6 linked regions of the Homo sapiens genome follow. The protein of the gene in region 2 interacts with the protein of the main gene of each other region in a pairwise test. Each region holds a gene or a part of one and is shown on either strand. Other genes may lie near its edges. The genes, in order: CFAP418, RNF111, LRSAM1, UBE2Q2, PHF7 and DTX3L.

Evidence for each region.
Region 1: the proteins of RNF111 (region 2) and CFAP418 interact in a two-hybrid assay, tested with the Homo sapiens proteins (one study listed by IntAct).
Region 3: the proteins of RNF111 (region 2) and LRSAM1 interact in a two-hybrid assay, tested with the Homo sapiens proteins (one large-scale study listed by BioGRID and IntAct).
Region 4: the proteins of RNF111 (region 2) and UBE2Q2 interact in a two-hybrid assay, tested with the Homo sapiens proteins (one large-scale study listed by BioGRID and IntAct).
Region 5: the proteins of RNF111 (region 2) and PHF7 interact in a two-hybrid assay, tested with the Homo sapiens proteins (one large-scale study listed by BioGRID and IntAct).
Region 6: the proteins of RNF111 (region 2) and DTX3L interact in a two-hybrid assay, tested with the Homo sapiens proteins (one large-scale study listed by BioGRID and IntAct).

What each region holds. Positions count from the first base shown.
Region 1 is NC_000008.11:95,252,202-95,255,701, reverse strand, and holds part of CFAP418 (cilia- and flagella-associated protein 418), read left to right. Parts: intron 1-3,418; coding exon 3,419-3,500. UniProt on the Homo sapiens protein: May be involved in photoreceptor outer segment disk morphogenesis.
Region 2 is NC_000015.10:59,078,163-59,081,662, reverse strand, and holds part of RNF111 (E3 ubiquitin-protein ligase Arkadia), read right to left. Parts: intron 728-3,500; coding exon 379-727; intron 1-378. UniProt on the Homo sapiens protein: E3 ubiquitin-protein ligase. Required for mesoderm patterning during embryonic development. Acts as an enhancer of the transcriptional responses of the SMAD2/SMAD3 effectors, which are activated downstream of BMP.
Region 3 is NC_000009.12:127,489,510-127,493,009, reverse strand, and holds part of LRSAM1 (E3 ubiquitin-protein ligase LRSAM1), read right to left. Parts: coding exon 3,492-3,500; intron 1,796-3,491; coding exon 1,715-1,795; intron 209-1,714; coding exon 113-208; intron 1-112.
Region 4 is NC_000015.10:75,874,447-75,877,946, reverse strand, and holds part of UBE2Q2 (ubiquitin-conjugating enzyme E2 Q2), read right to left. Parts: intron 3,123-3,500; coding exon of another isoform or gene 3,114-3,122; exon of another isoform or gene 3,039-3,113; intron 1,761-3,038; coding exon 1,676-1,760; intron 1-1,675.
Region 5 is NC_000003.12:52,413,660-52,417,159, forward strand, and holds part of PHF7 (E3 ubiquitin-protein ligase PHF7), read left to right. Parts: intron 1-336; coding exon 337-389; intron 390-836; coding exon 837-928; intron 929-3,500.
Region 6 is NC_000003.12:122,570,838-122,574,337, forward strand, and holds part of DTX3L (E3 ubiquitin-protein ligase DTX3L), read left to right. Parts: intron 1-840; coding exon 841-910; 3' UTR 911-3,500.

The sequences.
Region 1 (3,500 bases), on a different chromosome or scaffold from region 2:
AACACATATTAACCACCTGATAGGTCCTAAGGATTAAATGAACAAATTTTGATGAACAAATAAATGGACACTTCCTGTCTTCAATGAGCTTTCAGTCTAGATGAGGAGATGGGCTTTAAATAGATTATTCCACAAATAAGTATTTATTTTCCATTTGATATGTGACATAAAGGGAACATATGGGATACTATAAGCATAGATAATGGACACTCTAACTAATATGAAGGGTCAGGGAATACTTCTCTGAGCAGATAATCAAACCACAATATGAAAAATGAGTAGGAGTTAGACAAAGAGAGGTGACCATTGGAGCCAGAGCACACGCATGTTTAGAAGCTCCCTGAGAAGGGGAGGAGCTGGGGGTGTTCCTCTGGTGGAAGGAACAGAGAGTATCTGGCCATGCTGGAGCATAATGAGTAGGGAAAGAATGGCCACTGACTGGGCTGGAGAGAGAGTGGAGGGACATTTGGCTTAGGGTCCTGTAATCCTTTTGAGGATTTTGGAAAAAGTTTGTCCTGTGTTCAATGGGCCAGATTTGTGTTTCTTAAAAAAGTCATGTTGGCTGCTGTGCAGAAAATGGCTTGGGAGTTGGAGGGGCAAGACAGGAAAGGACACAGGAAGACTAGTCAATGGGCAGTAGTTAGAGTGGTCCAGGAAAGAGAAGATGGGAGCTGTGACCTGCGTGGTAGCAATGGCTATAGGGAAAAGGTCAAATTTGAAATATTTAGAATATAGAATTGACAGAATTCAGTGATTGACTAAGGAGGGTAAGAAAGAAAGTTGTTAAGAATGACTCCCAAATAAGGTGCCTTGCTCAAGGTCATATCAGTTATTGCAAAGCAAGGATCCAGATTGGTTACTTGATTCCTAATCCATTATGCTTTCTATTATACCACTTAGCAGAAAGCCATGTAATATGGGAAGAATCTTAGCTGATGTTGCTGTTGGAACTGCTGTTATCTTCAAACTATCCAGACATCAAGTTTCTTTAGTCCCATTGTGCAGATCTGATAGGATTTAACAGAGAACCACAGTGTCTGGGCAGAAGATTGTATTGGGTTGGATTTGGGGCATTCCTGTCGTAAACATCTTTAAAATAGTGAATTCTACTTTTTAGCTGGACAAAAGAACAAAGCTCTTGGTGACATCTTATGTGTGATTCCCTCTACATTTTAGAGGGAAAGACCTGACAGTTTGTCTTTCACTGGAGTCATGACTTTATATTAGATATGCTTTTATGTACATAGTTATGAAAGAGAAATATATTTCAGCCCTGAAAAGAGTACTGATTTACATGGCCAGGGCATAAAGGAAATTGAATCTATCCTGCCTATTTGCGTTGTTTGATTTCTAGATACAGCTCTGGCTTGAGGTAATGCTGAATGACTTTAGATTTTAGAAAAAGATTTGTCTTTCACTTGTTGGTGGAAAAGGGGAGAGAATAGTAGTAGGAAGCATGGTGGCAGTAATAAGTACTACAGATAAAACGAAGGCATTTTCAAGCCAATCGAATTTTACTCTCAATTATTTTTTAAACAACTTGCAAGACTGGATTATTCCATAGACTGGTACTAATTATGATCTAATAGAGTAAATCGTAGCAGTGGAATGATTTCTTAGCTGCAAGTTAGTTTTATGTTTCTCAAAGGACAGTGTTTGTAGGAAAATGTGGTGGTGTGAATAGATTTGAATAAACTACTAAATTTTAAATTAAATTAAAAAGCTGTATTTAGCATTATGGTTGAGATTTTACACATACAAAATGTCAGGAAATTCTAAATTATAGTTCCCACAACAGCAATAATTCAGCCAAATTGCACATATGTATTAAGGCATTAAAGTTAACACTCTGTGCAATCATGTAATAAACTATATATGCATAAGAAAGCAGGTCATAGTAGCTTTGGGAACTATCAATTTGCATTTCCTGACTTGTACATTCGAAGTCTGAGTTCAAATGTGTACAAATGTAGTTGTTGAATTTCCAAATGTAGAAATGCAACTTCATAAATTGCTAACAGTTTGAAAGAAAATATGGACTTGCCTATGAAACTTGTATAGGTTTTAAATGTTTCATTATTATTATGGTTAATAGTATTTTTAGAAATACAAAGCATTTATTCTCAAAGAAATTTTCAGGCCAAAAGTATTTGCATTTTGAAATTAGCGTATCTGAACTTTGAAGGGAAATAAATGAAAAAAATCTAATGATGAGTTTATTTTTTCATTACAGAAGTATTATGTGCTTAATGAAAGAATAAAAACAAAATTGAAACATGTATAAAGAAAAAGATAATAATCTCCCTTCCTTCCCTTCAACCACTCCTGATGCAACCAGGGTTACTGTGTAGTATATAACTTTCTACATTTTGCTCCATGTTCTTTTTTTTTTGAGACAGAGTCTCGCTTTGTCGCCCAGGCTGGAGTGCAGTGGCGCGATCTCCCCTCACTGCAATCTCCGCCTCCCGGGTTCACGCCATTCTCCTGCCTCAGCCTCCTGAGTAGCTGGGACTACAGGCGCCCGCCACCATGCCCAGCTAATTTTTTTGTATTTTTAGTAGAGATGGGGTTTCACTGTGTTAGCCAGGATGGTCTCGATCTCCTGACCTCGTGATCCGCCCGCCTCAGCCTCCCAAAGGGCTGGGATTACAGGCGTGAGCCACCGCGCCCGGCCATTTTGCTCCATGTTCTTATAAACTTCTAGCCACCTATATAGGAATTTTTTGTGGGGGTCGTTTTTACAAAAATAGGATCATGCTATATATGTTAGTGTGCACCTTGCTTCAGATATCCCTCCAGGTTAGTATATAGTCTAGTTATCATGAGCATTGTTTGTTTCTTCTCTCACTGCAATCAAAGCTCTATGAAGACAGAATCTCATTAGCACATACCAGACTCTCAATAAATATTTTTTGAGTGAATGAATGCATTATGCCAAGTTGTGAGGAAGCAAACAAATACAATCTTTTCCCAGCGCTTAAGCAGCTTATCTGAAAAACAGATTCATTTCAATGTCATGTGACATATTCTTCGGTAGAGATATTCCTGAAAATTTCAGTAGGAAGGGGAGCATTTAAAGAAGTTAGCTTATATGACGATCTCCCTCAGACGTAATTTGAAAACCATGGAATTAAAAGATCTACAAATCTATTTTCTTTCATATCTATATAATATATGTGTAAGTTCAGTGTACAAGATCATAGTAAAATAGGTAGGTTTGTGCAAAAATTTAACCTTAAGGTTTAGACCGTAAATAATGCTTTAGTATAAAGATTTATAATCAGATTAATCTGTACTTTTCTGTTGTTTATTCAGTAATCTGTAATATGTGGTGTATCCTATAAATAAATCACCATGTTTTCATTGGTATTTAAAGATACCAATAATCTTTAATATACAATTTTTTTTCTCTGAACAGAGCATGTGACCATCTGCGTTGTATAGCCTGTGATTTCTTGGTAGTCAGCTATGATGACTATATGTGGGACAAATCGTGTGAT
Region 2 (3,500 bases):
CAGCTTTGAACTCCTGGGCTCAAATTATCCTCCTGCCTTAGCCTCCTGAGCAACTGGGGATTACGGGAATGAGCCTCACCCAGCTTATAGTTACAAGTTACATTATTTCTAAAGACTTCATGGTTTTTTTTGTTGTTGTTGCTGTTCTTTGTTCTTTTTTTAAAAAAAGAAAACAACAACAACAAAAAACAGTATTTCACTGTGTTGCCCAGATGGACTCAAACTCCTGGGCTCAAGCAATCCTCCTGTCTCAGCCTCCCAAGGAGCTGTGACTACAAGTGCATGCCACCATGCCTAGTTGGATTTCAGAGTTGTAAAGACCAATGGAAGTAGAAGAAAAAGCAAACTTGACTTTCTTTTTAAAAACGTAAAACATACGTTGGATGCTGCATCATCCTCCTCCTTTGAACTTCCATCCTCTGCATCACTTCATGAGGATGCAGTCTCTGTGCTGGAGGTGCTGTGGCTGGAATATGGTGCGAAATTGGCTGGTGTGTAGGAGGAAGATGCTGAGGGATTGGTGCAGCTGTACTGGCTAAGTGAGTTGGTGGTGGGGGTGCCACAGGATGAGATGTTGCATGAGAAGATATTTGAGAATGGAAAGCATGTACAGGATGAGGAATAACATAATCCACTTGAGGCGGAGGCTGAGTCTGAGGAGGGGGGTTTCCATGAGAATGCGGGCAGGCAGAAGCTTGATGATGAAGTGGCCTTGTCAAAGAGGCATCTGCAAGAAAAATATTTTGAGTATGTTACATAGGCACCATGCAGTTGAACATATATTGCTATTATACATTCCTAGTGTACTTTTAAACATATTAGTATTTTATTTTTATGAATACTTTATCAAGTAAAGTATTCAAGCAACTGCTCAAGCAACTTGCTCCCTTCTTACAATAATCTTGGATATCTTATGTCAATATATATATTATAGTTTAACTTCACTCACAGCTTCACAACATTCTATTATATGAACACACCAAAATGTACTGACAAAATCCCCACTGATAAAAAAGAAACCCAAATGCTATGATAAATATCTGTGTATATGCTCACTCCTGCACTCACTCTTTCATTTACACACATGTATACACACATATATAGAGATCATTTCTGTAGCATAAATTCCTGTAAGTAGTTGTGGGACAGAAAGAAAAAAATAAATTTAGATGCCAGTTAATAAAAATACCCTTTCCAAAAGGTTGCCATAATTAATATTTCCATCAAGAGTACACAGGAAGGGCCAGGCACCGTGGCTCACACCTGTAATCCCAGCACTTTAGGAGGCCAAGGTGGGCAGAGTCACCTGAAGCCAGGAGTTCGAGACCAGCCTGGCCAACATGGCGAAGCCCCGTCTCCACTAAAAATACAAAAATTATCCAGGCATGGTGATGCACACCTGTAATCCCAGCTACTAGGGAGGCTGAGGCAGGAGAATCGCTTGAACCTGGGAGGTGGAGGATGCAGTGAGCTGAGATCATGCCACTGCACCCCAGCCTGGGCGACAGAGTGAGACTCCACCTCAAAAAAAAAAAAAAAAAAAAAAAAGGAGCACACAAGAAGGCCTGATTACCCCCACATTACCACTAAATTTTTAAAATAAATGCCAATCTGAGAAAAATCTTTTATTTCTTGACCGCTTGTATGTGTTCTCAGAATTATCTATTTACATGCTTAGCCTATTGTATTACTCACCTTTTTCTTATTGACTTGTAAGTATTATTTGCATATATGGAAGCTCTGTCATAATAGGGTGTAAACATTTTTCCAAACTGTCTCTCTCTCTCCCTACCCCATGTCATTATTCCTGTGCTACATTAAGGTGAAGGAGACCTATTTGTTTCCCATCAAATATGGACGTAAAGTCCTTAATAAGATGGCTCCTACCATTTCTTCATTCTACATCTTTATGTTTCAAAGTGACTGCTGAAAAATCTCTCTGAGGAATACACATCTTCCTTACTCTTAGAGATGTGCATCTACTTGACATGTAAAAAAAAAAAAAAAGTTTGTCTTAGATTTCAATACAAATTTCATTTTATTGGAAGATGTTCTTGGAAGTCTGATATAGACCAACAGCCATTCTCTAGTTTCATTACAGAAGTTTTCAATTTTTAATGCTTTTGATTCATTCAGCAAGGGCAGAAGTTAGGTAACAATAACTCAACTATATTTTCAAAGTATGCCTTGTTAGCATGTACTTAAAGGAAACTTTCAACAAATCTAATTTTTAAAAGTTGCAAGACAAATTTTTAAACCAATTTTCTAAAAGTTCTGTTTTCAAATCAATGCTTTACTCTTCAAGAAGGCACAAAGCTCAGTAGCTAGCTCTTAATCATAAAAAATGAATCCACTATGTTTTATGATTGTTAACTATCCTTTCTCAAATTCACAGCATTTTTTCTAGTTGCAAAGTTTTATATTTGTGTAATCATTATACAACATTCACAAATATTACAAAGCAAGAAGTTTTGTTTCAGAATGAGTCCATTTATTTAACTACTCTTTAGACATCACTTTAATTCACTGTTTAAACAAAACAGGTTGCTGACCATTTTAAGAGTGACATATTCCACATTCCCAAAAACCCTTTCCCTTCCTCTATTTGTGTTCCCAACAGTTAAAAAAAGTTCTTGATATTGTTTCCTAGACGTTCAACATATCACTTGCAGATGTAATACTATGCTTTATTCCAACATTTACTCACTGCATTCCCATAGCTTTACAGTGTAGACCATTTGCTTTATGATTAATCGTAAGTAGCCTTACCTATACCTCTCTTTTTTTTTTTTTTTTCTTCTTTTGAGAGGGAGACTCGCTCTATCGCCCAGGCTGGAGTGCAGTGGTGTGATCTCAGCTCACTGCAATCTCCATCTCCCAGGTTCAAGCAATTCTCCTGCCTCAGCCTCCCGAGTAGCTGCGATTACAGGCACCTGCCACCACACCCGGCTAGTTTTTGAATTTTTAGTAGAGACAGGGTTTCGCCATGTTGGCCAGGCTGGTCTTGAACTCCTGACCTCAGGTGATCCACCCGCCTCGGCCTCCCGAAAGTGCTGGGATTACAGGCGTGAGCCACTGTGCCTGGTCTTTTTTTTTTTTTTTTTTTTTTTAGAGACAGGTTCTCACTATGTTGTCCAGGCAGGAGTACAAGGATTGTTCACAGGTGTGATAACAGCACACTACAACCTTGAACTCCTGAGCTCAAGCAATCCCCATGCCTCAGCCTCCTGAAGAGCAGGAACTACATGCTCATACTACCAAGCCAGGCCTTACATATCTTCTCAATACATCTTATTAATAAGATAGTAAAACTTTTAAATAATAGCATTTCAAGTACAGTTGTTTTATCACTTCATCAAGACCACAAACCTTTCAAAAGCAGAGAGAGACATATTCTTACTCCACAAGTATTGTTGTTATACATATAAATGTACTTATGAAACAGCAAACTATTCATCTGGATCCAAGTATCACAATTTATAGCCAATAGGAATTATTCC
Region 3 (3,500 bases), on a different chromosome or scaffold from region 2:
TTTTCTTTGATGAATAACTCTTACTTGAATAACAGGTGTTTCTAAAAATGGCAAGTCTGTTAAAGAAAAGCAAATGCCTGTGTGATGCTGAGCACAGAAGCCAAACACATACCAGGATTTCCCGGAGCTCTTCCTCTCGCTGCTGCTTCTCTTTGAGCAGCTGCTGGAGCAGGGAGCTGAGGGCCCAGCGCTGCTCCGAGATCATCTCCTGCGAACAAGACCACACCCCGCACCACCGTGAGCTGGCGGCAGCGCAGGAGTCCCGCAGTGGCAGGATGGAGAAGGGCCTGGCCTCCCGCTCACTCGGTTCTCTGCCCAATGCCTCCAGGCTGCGTTGGGGGACAAAGCTAAGAGGCCCTTCTGCCCCCTTACCCTAAGCCCGCATCTCTCTTCCTTGTGGGGTTAAGTCAGGCATGGGATCCTGGTGACTGATGACAATGGGATGGTAAGAAACATCAAACAAAAGAAATGACAAGCCACAGGTGCCTGCCTTTGGTCTCCCAGACAACAGAGCACATGGGCAGAAGCAAATGGCGGGGAGCAGTGTGGGGCCCCACACAAATGGAGGTGCGTGCAAACCAGAGCCTGGGGTCCCTGCTTCACTCCTGCGCCTGCTCTTGGAAACCCCATGGGGGCCCCAACAGCCAGAGCCCTGCCACACTTGTGGGCAGGGACTAGGGCACCCGCCAGGCATGATGACCGCAGCTTCTCTGAGAGCAGTCCCAGTCCCCTCATCTCTGGAGATCATTTCAAGGCTCACAAAGGGCTTTCCCTTGCTAGCTCAGCCTTCTCCGATGGCCTGATGGCACAGGCTGGGCCTGGAGGACCGCTGCCATCTTATGGAGTAGGGGAAGAAGGCCTGGAGGGGCAGAGGCCTGTCTAAGGGCACACAGCACACCTGCGGTGCACCTGAGACCAGGGATCCAGATCCCAGACCCTTCACTGCACTGAGGAGTCCATGGGATGGCTTGAGACTTCTCCACTGAGAACAGACACAGGGACAGTGACAGACCGAAGGCTCTGCTCAAACTCCTGGCACAGGCACATGTCCTCACACACCATCCCATCCAGCCCTCCGTCTGCAGCTGGAGAGGCTGAGGTTCAGAGAGGGGAAAGGGCTGCCTCTCCTCCCCCACCTGCCAAAGTTGCACAGCAGGGCTGTGCTGGGCCACACCCGGCTCCCAGGCATCCAGTCCAGGACGCCAGCTGCCAGTCCCTGCTGCCCTCTCATCTGTGTGCGCAGGACTCCCGGGCTGGAGCCCCAGAGATGCTGCCTGCAGGGAGTTACACAGATGCGGCTGGGCCCTCTCCTCCAGACAACCCGGGACACCCAAAAGCTCCAGCCCTGGAGGATGTGTGCCTGGGGGCCTAAAGCACGGCCTACAGAGAGAGACAGGAGCTCAGCGGCGGGCCCGCACCCAGCACAGGAGACACAGTGATGGAGATGAGCAGGGGAGCCTTGGCAATGAAACCCTCCTTCCTCTGACCCTCCTGCCTCGCAACAGGCTGACCACCTCTAACCTTGGCCTGCGCTGGGCCTTCTGGGGCTGGGGGGTGTCCTCTGGTGTCACAGCCACAGAGGAGCTCTGCCCTCTGTCTGCTGGGGAAGCCCTTGACTCCCAGGGGCTGGTGAGCAGCTGCCAGAGGCTGGGAGGGAGCACCAGGTGGGGGTCTCACCACGTGAAGGAGGGCAGGGGCAGGGAGCCCTACATACCTGGAGTGACTCTGTGTCCAGGGACTTCCTCTTTAACTCCAGCTGTGTCAGCTGCAATAACTCAGTTTCTATTAACTTAATCTAAACAGAAGACGAGACAGGGTTTTTTTTTACTCACATTAACCACAGTTCAGTTTTGTGCTGCTACTCTCTGGTGACCAAGTGGGTCTAAGAAGCCTTTCTGGGGAGGCTGGGGAGGCTCTGGAATGAGGGGAACCTGCGGGCCTGGGAACCTCGTCAAGGGGCTTGAACAAGAATTCGTTCCTTCATGGCCTCGCGTTCCTGGGGCATGGACGTGCTTGTTGTGGCCAAAATTGTTTACCAAGAGGCCAGCACAGGATCTCTCCTAGAGTGGGATCAGGATAAAGGCTTGTGCAATGGAGAGGGGGCTTTCCTTGGGGATTCAGGCCAGAGTAAAGCACAGACAGAGCTATCACCCAGTCTCCTGCTGGTCAAGTTCTCTTGTCCCTCGCATCGCTGTTGCAGGGGAGAGCAGAGGGTAGTGGAAGTGACTGAGTAACAGTGGTAGTAGTAGCTGGTATGTCTTGAGCACCTACTATGTGCTAGGCCTGTGCTGCACACTTGATGTATCATATTTCATCAATTCTCTGGCTGCTAGGAGGTATTATTGCCTCCATTTTATAGACAAGAAAACTGAGGCTCAGAGAGGTTCTCACTTGCTCAAGGACACAGAGCAGGTAAGGGAGAGATCCCTTTCTCTGGGATGCCTCAGCTCAGGGTTTAAGGGCAATAGCTGACCTGGTCAAAACCATCTGCAGTGAGAATGTGGGGGGCCCTCACAGGCTCTCCAGGGTGTGTCTAGGGGATTTTAGCCCTGGGCAGGGGTGGGGGTCAGACCCCATAGCCAGTACTTCTCTATCCTGTGCCCATGACCCTGTGACCCTCATCCCTAAGTCCCTATGACACCACCAACCCCTGGTCAGAGGAATGAGCTTCATGTCCGGCAATGTGGAATTGAAATTAAAGAGGGAAATTAAAAAGGTAAATTGGTCCAAAAAAAGAAAGAAAGAAAGAAAGAAAGAAAGAAAAATAGAGAAAGAAAAAAACCATGCAAAAATGCAAAATTCAGTGTGCTGAACATGATGCAGGAGTACTCCCATAGCCTGACGCTCACTTCAGCCCCAGCCCCAGCCCCACTCCACAGGCGGTGACCACCAAGCCGTGTAGGTGGGCTTGCCCAAGGCTTGAAGGTCAGCAGCCGGCCTGCGGGGGGTGGGGGGTATCTTGTCACATGAGGGAGGGTCTAAGAGGAGGACCGCCTCCTCCTGGGCCGAGGTCACTTTTCAGCAGGCGTCAGGACCACCGTGGCTCACAGCTCCCCCTGCCCTCTTCTGGGGGAAATACTATATGCCCCTGAGACGCCTCTGTCTGTCTGAGCTGTAGGAGCGCTGGGGCCTGCGCCGGCTGCTTTTCCCAGTGGGGAAGTCCTGCCTGGAGCAGGGACAGCAGAGGCAGCTGGAGCAGTCAAAGCCACACATCAGCACCAGCCTCCCTGGCCCAGGCGTGGTGGAGACCCGCCTCGCTGGCAAGACCCTCGCCAGACCCCGGAATAGGAGGTCTCTAGACACCCTCCCAGCAGCCCCGACACAAGGCTGGGAGCAAAGGGAGGTTCTGAGGGCAAGGCCTCGACCTCTTGTTGGGCTAGCAAGCCAAGGAGCTGGGGTTCAAACCTCAACTGCTGCGACCTGCCGCCCTGGAGGGCCACTCTGCAAGTCTCTGAGAGAGCAGGTCCAGGGACCCCAGCCCCAGCGCTCACCTGGCTCCT
Region 4 (3,500 bases), about 17 Mb from region 2:
AGCATGTTAGCTACTCTTCATTTCATCATATAACTATTACTATGGTATAAATGTATACACTAAATAGCCAACGAAAGCTAGAAATTTTGCTCTTAAAACATGGAACAACTAAGCTATATAGTAAATATTACACTACTGCAGCTGAGTATCTTATGCCCTTAACAGATAATTACAGCCATCAACTGAGAAGATTCTTTAATGAGTTGAAAAACTGCTTACCGTTTAGTCTGACTGAAAAAAAGATTATGCAAAATCATATGTACTTAAGACTTTTCTTCCATGAACACACATTTCTACAAAGATGGAATCCTTCTACGTATGTTGTTTTATAATCTCTCTTCAACTTTCAGGGACATCTTTCCAAGTTAGTATACATAAACCTATTCACAATCTTTTTAATGACTCTGTGGTAGTTTATTTTATGGATATGCTTTAACAAATTCCACCCAGTATCTGTTTTTTTTTTTCTATATAAACAATGCTGAAACAAATGATTATTTAACATTTAAAAATAAAACCAGTATTCAAATGTTTGTACTTTATTAGGTTTCTACAGATAAACTTTTAGACTTCTTACACAAAAAACCGTAAGGACACCCACAATTCTAACAACTCAGAAACAAGTTTGGCTTATCCTGCACACTACAAAGCAAGGATTTTTTCCTTGTTTTTATTCTTTAAGCAAATTCTAATTAATTTTGATTTGCTCACGCTAAGAATTCCTGAATCGGTCATAATGCTAGAATTGAATCGGTCATAACCCTTTTTTTTTTTTTTTTTTTTTTTTGACAGAGTCTCACTCTTGCTGCCCAGGCTGGAGTGCGGTGGTGCAATCTTGGCTCACTACAGCCTCTGCCTCCTGGGTTCAGGTGATTCTCCTGCCTCAGACCACTGAGTAGCTCGGATCACCAGGCGTGCGCCACCACACCCGGCTAATTTTTTATTTTTAGTAGAGATGGGGCTTCGCTCGCCATGTTGGCCAGGCTGGTCTTGAACTCTTGACCTCAGGTGAGCTGACCACCTTGGCCTCCCAAAGTGCAGGGATTATAAGTGTGAGCCACCGCACCCAACCAATGCTATCTTTTCAAATTAAAGTTTGGCTCATTATTTAATACTATTAGAATCTCCATAACAATATGAGAATTTTACCTCTAGTTAGAGAGGTTCCATAACATTCAAGTCATATTGAGTAAGAATACTCGTCAAACAAGGAAATGAAAACTTTAAAAACTTATATATTTTAAAGGTAATAACATAACTATCTTTACAATAAAAGCTGATTATCTTGCTTTCAAAAATGGGGGGGAATCATAAAAATCAACTTGGCAATTATTCTCTGTAAAATGAAATGTTTTACTCTTATTTACTTTCCAAGCAATATCGCTCATGCTTTCCCCAGAAGATAAAAATCATGTAAGAGTTCACTGTTTATCAAGAAGAGGACAAAATTCCAATGGACCTATAAAAACATTTTTTAAAAATCCAAAAGACAAGTAAACTCATCCTATTTTACTCCTACATCTTTTGGAACTTGATTGCATTTGAGTTTCACATTCCTGAAATAAAGCTAGTAAACATTTCCATTTCTGTCCAGTTTTAAGAAATGACATTTATAATCTGACAATAGAAAAGAGCAGAAGAATCATAAAGAGAGCAGGGATCCAGAGATCCTTACCTGTTTTATAACTCTGTGATCTGTATATGTCCCTGAGCTCTTTCATAAGTCTATCTGAAGCTTGCACTGACCCAGACACTGCACCCTGAAACACAAAAGCCACTGTTTACCAGGGTCTGCTGAGCTAAGATTTAAGATATTTCAACCTGATCTAAAAGATTACAGCAAAAATGGATCACCACTCAACATTTTTTTTTTTTTTTTTTGGAGATGGAGTCTAGCCCTGTTACCCAGGCTGGAGTGCAGTGGCGCAATCTCAGTTCACTGCAACCTCCGCCTCCCTGCTCAAGAGATTCTCCTGCCTCAGCCTCCCAAGTAGCTGAGACTACAGGTGCGCACCACCACGCCCAGCTAAATTTTGTATTTTTTTTTTTGGTAGAGACGGGATTTCACCATGTTGGCCAGGATGGTCTCAATCTCTTGACCTCGTGGTCTGCCTGCCTCGGCCTCCCAAAGTGCTGGGATTACAGGCATGAGCCACTGTGCCCAACCTCAACATTTTAAGAAGTAAAAAAAAGCCCAATTAAATGAAGCATTATGAAGTTTCAAGAGGATATTAAAACTAGGCACAAGTCTAGTTCATTTCCTATTTCTTCTCATGTGAAAAAGTCTAGCCAACATGTCCAGACCACCATGGATTCCACAATAACAAAGAATTCAGTATGAGTCTATTCCAAACCCCAGCAATTTTTGAAAATACTAGAAGACACTCAAGGTGACACATTATTTACTAAAATAGAGTTCCATTCATAAGACTACAAACAAGAATATTACACAGATGGTCTAGTTCGCACATTAAGACACTGAGAAACATCTGCCTACATGCGACTGGTTTCAGTTTTTCAGTGCAGGGACATCTCTAAAGATGAAAACACATCAATATCTTATCATAAGACTAAATACAAACGGAACTATTTTTTGGTCACGTGAAATTAAAGATTTTAAACATTGCACTATACTTTGAAGGGGGGAAAAATCAAGTTTCCTAGCTCATTTCATATCTACAAAATATGAGAAGTTTTTCCTATCTCTAAAATATGAAGCATACCTATTTCACACGGTGGCTATGAAGACTAAATGTGAAGATATGTGAAGTATAAAGTACTTGGCATAGTATCCATCATGCAAAAGTGTTCAGTAACTTATAGTTGTTTTGACTATAACTCAAACTGGAATCGATCACAAGACATAAAGTACAGTCATCATTAATTCAAATGACAAACTTTGTTTTTTAAGTAATCAAGATATGGGGGCTTGACTAAATTTCTTTGCTCTACTAAAAATTATAAATTAGATTAATATATAAATTAGACTGAAGGAGGGAGAGTAATCTACCTGTTTTCAACATTTGGCATCTACTTACCTAACAATTCATTCCCTGTTTTGGGGAACCTGTGCCCAAGACAAAGTAACTGCTACTCAGATTTCACGGAGTTGGTCAATAGCTCTAACACAAGGCAAAAAGTAGTAAGTGTTCAGACAATCATTTGATGTTTCCCTACTCTGAGCATTTTATATATATACACACATCATTTTCATTTATTTTTGATAGCAATCATCCAAAAGGTATGTACTGTCTAGCCATATTTTAGAGCTGAGGAAAGTGAAACCATAAATTGTGTGTTTGTCACCAGACTCAGTGTTCTTTTCACATCCTGCTGCTTCACGTAAAAGAGATATTAAGTTGTGGCCGGACACAGTGGCTCACACCTGTAATCCCAGCACTTCGGGAGGCCAAGGCAGGTGGATCACTTGAAGTCGGGAGTTCAAGACCAGCCTGGCCAACATGGTGAAACCCTGTCTCTACTAAAAATACAAAAATTAG
Region 5 (3,500 bases), on a different chromosome or scaffold from region 2:
CCCCGTCTCTACTAAAAATATAGAAATTAGCTGGGCGTGGTGACAGGCGCCTGTAATCCCAGCTCCTCGGGAGGCTGAGGCAGGAGAATTGCTTGAACCCAGGAGGCAGAGGTTGCAGTAAGCTGAGATCGCACCACTGCCCTCCAGCCTGGGCAACAGAGCAAGACTCTGTCTCAAAAACATATATATGTGAAATATGAAAAGAAGCTGATGTCTTAGGCTTTAGATATGTTGGTCCTTCATCAGACCCATGAATGGCATTTTAAGAGAAATGTTAAAAAGGTTATCAACAAGATCCCCAAAGAACACCTTGTGCTTCTTATTTCTCTTGTATAGAAAATCTGCCAAGACTAGGAGGGTAACCCAGAGGAAACCGTCTTCAGGGCCTGGTAAGAAAGACTGGAGCTTGTGTTCGCCCACTGCCTCCAGCCCTCAGCAAAGAAGGCCACCTGTGTGGGGCAGTATACTTGCTTCTTCTCTCTCTCCCAGCCCTACTTCCTTCCTAGATTCTCTAAGATCTTGAGGACTCAGGAACTGCCATTTTAAATTACCATGTCTGAAGTTCAAGAAACAAGTTATTAAAGTCACTTTAGAACAAAACAAAACCAAAAAAAAATGAAGTGAGCAGTTGTGGCCAACTTTTTCATTGTAACCAGAATTATGTGACAGACTAATTGATACCACATAAGACCTCATCCCAACCTTCCTCCTTGCCAAAATGACCCTTTTCCTAGTATTCTACTCCTTCCTGACTTAGAGGAATGGTTACATTCTCACCCTTCTCTTCCATTCTTAATGGTCAATTTGAGCCAAATTCTGGGTGTCCTCTCTTCCAGTTTGCTGGCTATGCCTTCGAGAACCTGGGGATCCCGAAAAATTAGGGGAATTTCTTCAGAAAGACAATATCAGCGTGCATTATTTCTGTCTTGTGAGTATGAGGCCTCCTTTGCTTTGAATATCCTATGGCTTTTGGTGTACTGACTGTTCTCTGTTACATTCATCCTCATATCCACAGCCTTGTTTTTTTATTTTTCTTAATAGCTTTTTTGTTTTAAAATCTATTTTTAGGCTGGGTGCAGTGGCTCACGCCTGTAATCCCAGCACTCTGGGAGGCCGAGGCAGGAGGATCTCTTGAACCCAGGAGTTCAAGACCAGCCTGGGCAACCTTGTCTCTACAAAAAAATTAAAAAAAAAAAAAAAAAAGCTGGGTATAGTGACAAATGCCACTCCGGAGGCTAAGGCAAGAGGATCGCTTGAACCCTGGAGGTGGAGGCTGCAGTGAGCAGTGATCACACCACCACACTCCAGCCTGGGTGACAGAGGAAGACCTTGCCTCAAAAAAAGAAAAATATATGTGTCTGGTATAAAATCTTGACAGTATAAAGTAAGTTCAGTAAAAAAGTCTCTTCCCTAAACAATGTTCCCAATCCTTCTCCCTCTCCCCAGAAACAAATGCTGTCAAAGTTGTAACATCCTTCCAATTGCTTTTTCCCAGTATTTTTTTATTAGGTATAACTTTCATACTGTAAAAATCACCAATTTTTTTCTTTTTTTGAGAACGGAGTCTCACTCTCTTGCCCAGGCTAGAGTGCAGTGGCGTGATCCCGGCTCACTGCAACCTCTGCCTCCCTGGTTCAAGTGATTCTCCTGCCTCAGCCTCCCAAGTAGCTGGGATTACAGACACCTACCACCATGCCTGGCTAATTTTGTATTTTTAGTAGAGACAGGTTTCACCGTGTTAGCCAGGCTGGTCTTGAACAAAATTCACTAATTTTAAGGGTCCAGTTTGATAAGTTTTGATAAATGTATGTCCCCAAATAACCACCACCCCAATCAAAATAGGTAATATTTTCATCACCCCAGAAAGTTCCCTCCTGCCTCCTTTTCCAGTCAATCCCACTAGACGTAATCACTGTTCTGATCTATGGATTATTTTTGGCTATTCTTTTACTTCATATAAGTGAAATCATATAGTTTATAATCTTCTGTATCTGGCTTTTTTCTCCCAACACAGTGTTTTGGAGATTCATCCATGTTGTTGCATGCATTCATAGCTTGTGCCTTTTTATTACTTGGTAGTATTCGGTTGCATGAATAAGTTACTATTTGCTTATCTGTTCACCTGTTGATGAACATCTGAATTGTTTCCATTTGAGGACTATTATGAATAAAGCTACTTTAAGCATTCATGTACAAGTCTCTTTGTGAACATGTGCTTTCACTTCTCTTGTGCAGATGCCTAGAAGTGGAATTACTAGTTGTATGCTAATTAGATATTTAACTTTATGTGAGGTTGCCACATCACTGTCCAAAGCGGTTGTACCAGCTTACACTCCTACCAGCAATTTATAAGAAGTCCAGTTGCACAGTATTCTTGCCGGAACTTTGTTTTGTCAGTGTTCTTAATTTTAGCCATTCTACTGGGTGTGTATTGGTATTTCATTGTCGTTTTAATTTCCATTTTTCTGATGACTAAAGCTTCTTTTCATGTGCATATTGGCCATTCACATATTTTCTTTGGTTTTTTGGTTTTTTTTTTTTTTTGAGATGGAGTCTCGCTCTGTCGCCCAGGCTGGAGTGCAGTGGTATGATCTTGGCTCACTGCAGCCTCCACCTCCCGGGTTGGAGCAATTCTCCTGCATCAGCCTCCCAAGTAGCTGGGACTACAGGTGCCTGTCACCACGCATGGCTAATTTTTATATTTTTAGTAGAGACAGGGTTTCACCGTGTTAGCCAGGATGGTCTCGATCTCTTGACCTCGTGATCTGCCCACCTCGGCCTCCCAAAGTGCTGGGATTACAGGCGTGAGCCACCGCGCCTGGCCCGGCCCACATATTTTCGTTTGTTAAGTATCTGTACAAATATTTTTACCCATTTAAAAACACTGAGTGGTGGTCGGGCACAGTGGCTCACGCCTGTAATCCCAGAACTTTGGGAGGCCGAGGCGAGCAGATCAAGAGGTCAGGAGATGGAGACCATCCTGGCTAACACGGTGAAACCCTGTGTCTACTAAAAATAAAAAAATTAGCCGGGCATGGTGGCAGGCGCCTGTAGTCCCAGCTACTCGGGAGGCTGAGGCAGGAGAATGGCGTGAACCCAGGAAGTGGAGCTTGCAGTGAGCCGAGATCACGCCACTGCACTCCAGCCTGGGCGACAGTGCAAGACTCCGTCTCAAAAAAAAAAAAAAAAAATTGAGTGGTTTTATTATTGAGTTGTAGGAATTGCTTATATATTTCAGATACAAATTCTTTTTCAAATATATGTATTGAGACTATTTTCTTCCTAGTCTTTGGCTTGCCTTTTCATTTTCTTAATGGTGTCTTTCAAAGAACAAGTTTGTAATTGTAATGGAGCCCAGTTTATCCATTTTTTTCTTTTATGGTCAGTGCTTTTTGTGTGTTGCAAGAAATCTTTACCTACCCATAGAATTGCCTTGGTGCCTTTGTCAAAATCAATTGACCATATATCTGTGGATCTGGATAATCTATTTATGTCATTGA
Region 6 (3,500 bases), on a different chromosome or scaffold from region 2:
CAACTTCTACCCTGCCAGCTATAAAGTACTATGGAGTTATTTAAATTTTGCACCAAAGGACAGGGGGCTTTTGAATCCGAGATGAATACTATATAAGCTGATTTAATTTGAGGCGTTGTGTCTATCTGAAGGCTAGATGCTCGGAATGTCACTTTGCTTCCTTTTAAGGTCACCTTTCTTTTTCACCCCTTCCCCCACCAGTCCACAGAGAACCTGAAATCACTTGGCCAATAATATTCTAGAAAAAGTCTAAGTTGTGAGGAGACTATTGGTAGAAACTGTATTATACGAAATCCAATTGTTCTTTATGAAACCCAAATAGGATTCCTCAGACCCTTGGCACTAAAGAAAAAATATATACCCTGAGACTTTTCCAAAACCTTAAATTTGAAAATCCTACTAGCATGTGATTACGATGCCCCCCTAAAACACAGTATATTATTATATTTTTAGGAGAGTCACTACTTACCATAAACTGAAAAATTTTAAGAATTAACATAGACATGAAGCCTCAAAGTAAATCAACGTATTACTATTCATCTTGGATTCTCAAACCCCCTGCCCTTTGATGCGAAATGTAATAAATACATCATATTAATACTTTGTAGTTGGCAGGGTAGAAGCCAGCTTGAAAGGCAGATGCTGGCCAGACAGCTAGGCTCACTCGCTAGCGAAATGACTCGCATCTGCGAATTTAAAAGTCATGATACGTCATCCACCTTCAGGATTACTTGTGAATGTTTGCAACACTGGATATTAATTAAATCCTTAAATGCTGGATATCTATTGCACATATCCGAACAATTTGTGGTGACACTAAAGGAATTTTTGTTTCTTCAGGTATGGCTATCCTGATCCTTCTTACCTGAAACGTGTCAAAGAGGAGCTGAAAGCCAAAGGAATTGAGTAAGACAACTGCTGGAAGATGTCTTAAATCAAGCTTTCAAAAAAATATATTTTAGGAGGCTGATTTAATGCCAGTCTAAATCCTTATGTAGAAAGGACTTTGAAATTTTTCTTCTCAAGAAATGGTTTGTATAAGAATAACAATCTGCTAGTCTGTCATTTCTGGAGTGATACTTTTTTTTTTGAGACGGAGTCTGCTCTGTCGCTCGCGCTGGAGTGCAGTGGCATGATCTCGGCTCACTGCAAGCTCCGCCTCCCAGGTTCATGCCATTCTCCTACCTCAGCCTCCCGAGTAGCTGGGACTACAGGCGCCCACCACCATGCCCGGCTAATTTTTGTTTTTGTATTTTTAGTAGAGACAGGGTTTCACTGTGTTAGCCAGGATGGTCTCGATCTCCTGACCTCGTGATCCGCCCGCCTCAGCCTTCCAAAGTGTTGGGATTATAGGCGTGAGCCACCGCGCCCAGCCCTGGAGTGATACTTTTTATGGAAGACAAAAGCCCCCCAAATCTGTGTAAAATCTGCTGCAAAGGTGTCATCCCTCTTGTGTCATCACTGGGGTTAGAGGTGGGTCCGAAATAATCTTCTGTGTCCTTCAGTTGGACTCTCGGCTGCCAATTGATCTCTTTTTCATTGCCATCTCTGGGGTGGTTCTTTGGTTTTTTGTGTGTTTTCCCCTTCATCTCTACCTGTGAAAGTGAAATTCTATTGTAAATGGGAGGAAAAAGGGTTGGTTGTGAAAAATTAAAGACCCACATTCTGCTTTCTTACTCATGGTAAGAAAAGTGGCCATGAGTAGAGATTGGGCAAGCATTGGTAATAAATGGAATAAGACTATTATTATTATTATTTGAGATGGAGTCTCACTCTGTCACCCAGGCTGGAATGCAGTGGTGTGATCTTGGCTCACTGCAACCTCCACTTCCCGGGTTCAAGCGATTCTCCTGCCTCAGCCTCCTGAGTAGCTGGGATTACAGGTGTGTGCCTCCACACCCGGCTAATTTTTTGTATTTTTAGTAGAGACGGGGTTTTGCCATGTTGGCCAGGCTGGTTTCAAACTCCTGAGCTCAAATGATCCTCCTGCCTTGGCCTCCCAAAGTGCTGGAATTACAGGCATGAGCCACCACACCCACACAAGACTATCATTTTTAATGACCAAGAGCCTAGTATATAGTTGGTGCCTGTCTTAGTCTGTTTGTGTTGCTATAAAAGAACACCTGAGACTGGGTAATTGATAAAGAAAAAGGTTTGTTTGGCTCACAATTTTGCTGGCTAGAAGGTTGGGCATCCGGTGAAAGCCTCAGGCTGCTTCCATTCATAGCAAAGGGCAGCCAGTGTGTGCAGAAATCAAATGACAGAGAGGAAGTGAGAGAGAGAGGTGTCGGGGAGGTGCCAGGCTCTTTTTAACAAGCAGTTCTTCAGGAACTAAGAGTGAGTCACTCCCATGAGAACAGCACCAAGCCATTCATGGGGGAATCTGCCCCCATGACCCAGACCCCTCCCGTTAGGCTTCACCTCCAACACTGAGGATCAAATTTCAACATGAGATTTGGAGGAGGTCAAACAAACTAAACTGTAGCAGTGTTTCATAAAATTGTTTGCCTGACTCAGGTTGCTAGTAAGCCAGCAGAGGGATATTTGCCTCCTAAATCTTTGGCAGAGGCAGGAGTAAGGAAGCCATTTCTGGAGTCCTTGCTACTAATTTGGAAAACTGAGCTTCTTTCTTTCATTGCTTTTTCCCTTAAGAGACAAGTCCTTACTATATTGCCCTGTCTCTCAAGGGAAGACATCAAGACTGGACTTGAACTCCTGGGCTCAAGCCATCCCCCAACCTTGGCCTCTCGAGTAGATGGGATTATAGGCATGTGCCACGGTGCCTGACTTGAGTTTCTTATTCTAGAACACTTGGAGCCTGAACTCTGACCAGGCCCCTCACTTGAGCCTTTGCTTTCTGCTCCTTGTAAACTGCCATATTGGGTGCACTTGCCCTGCCACAGTAATGCTATATATTTCTGAGCATTGTTTTTCTCTAGATAATTTTATATTTTTGAGTATACCCCACTTCCAAGTGTTTTTTGTTTTGTTTTGCTTTGTTTTTGTTGTTGTTGTTTTGAGACAGGGTCTCACTGTGTCCCCCAGGCTGGAGTGCAGTGGCACAATGACGACTCACTGCAGCCTCAACCTCCTGGGGCCAAGTGATCCTCCCACCTCAGCCTCTCAAGTGGCTGGGACCACAGAAGTGCACCACCATGCCTGGCTTTTTTTTTTTTTTTTGGTCGAGATGGGGTGTCCCTGTGTTGCCCAGACTGGTCTTGAACTCCTGGACTCAAGGGATCCTCCTGTCTTGGGCTCCCAAAGTGTTGGGATTACAGGCGTGAGTGACCATGCCTAGCTCACTTCCAGGTTTAACAGACAAAATAAACTTACTCTAGTTTCCATCTCTATCATTTTATAATAACCGTAGCCCACATTGTAGTAGTTTTTCAGCTCTTTACTAAGTCCCACCAATTCATGTTTTCACCCTTAAAATCTTTCTCACTGATACTCTCTCTGGACAGAAAAAAGGTGAAATAAGCCTACTATAAGGAATATAT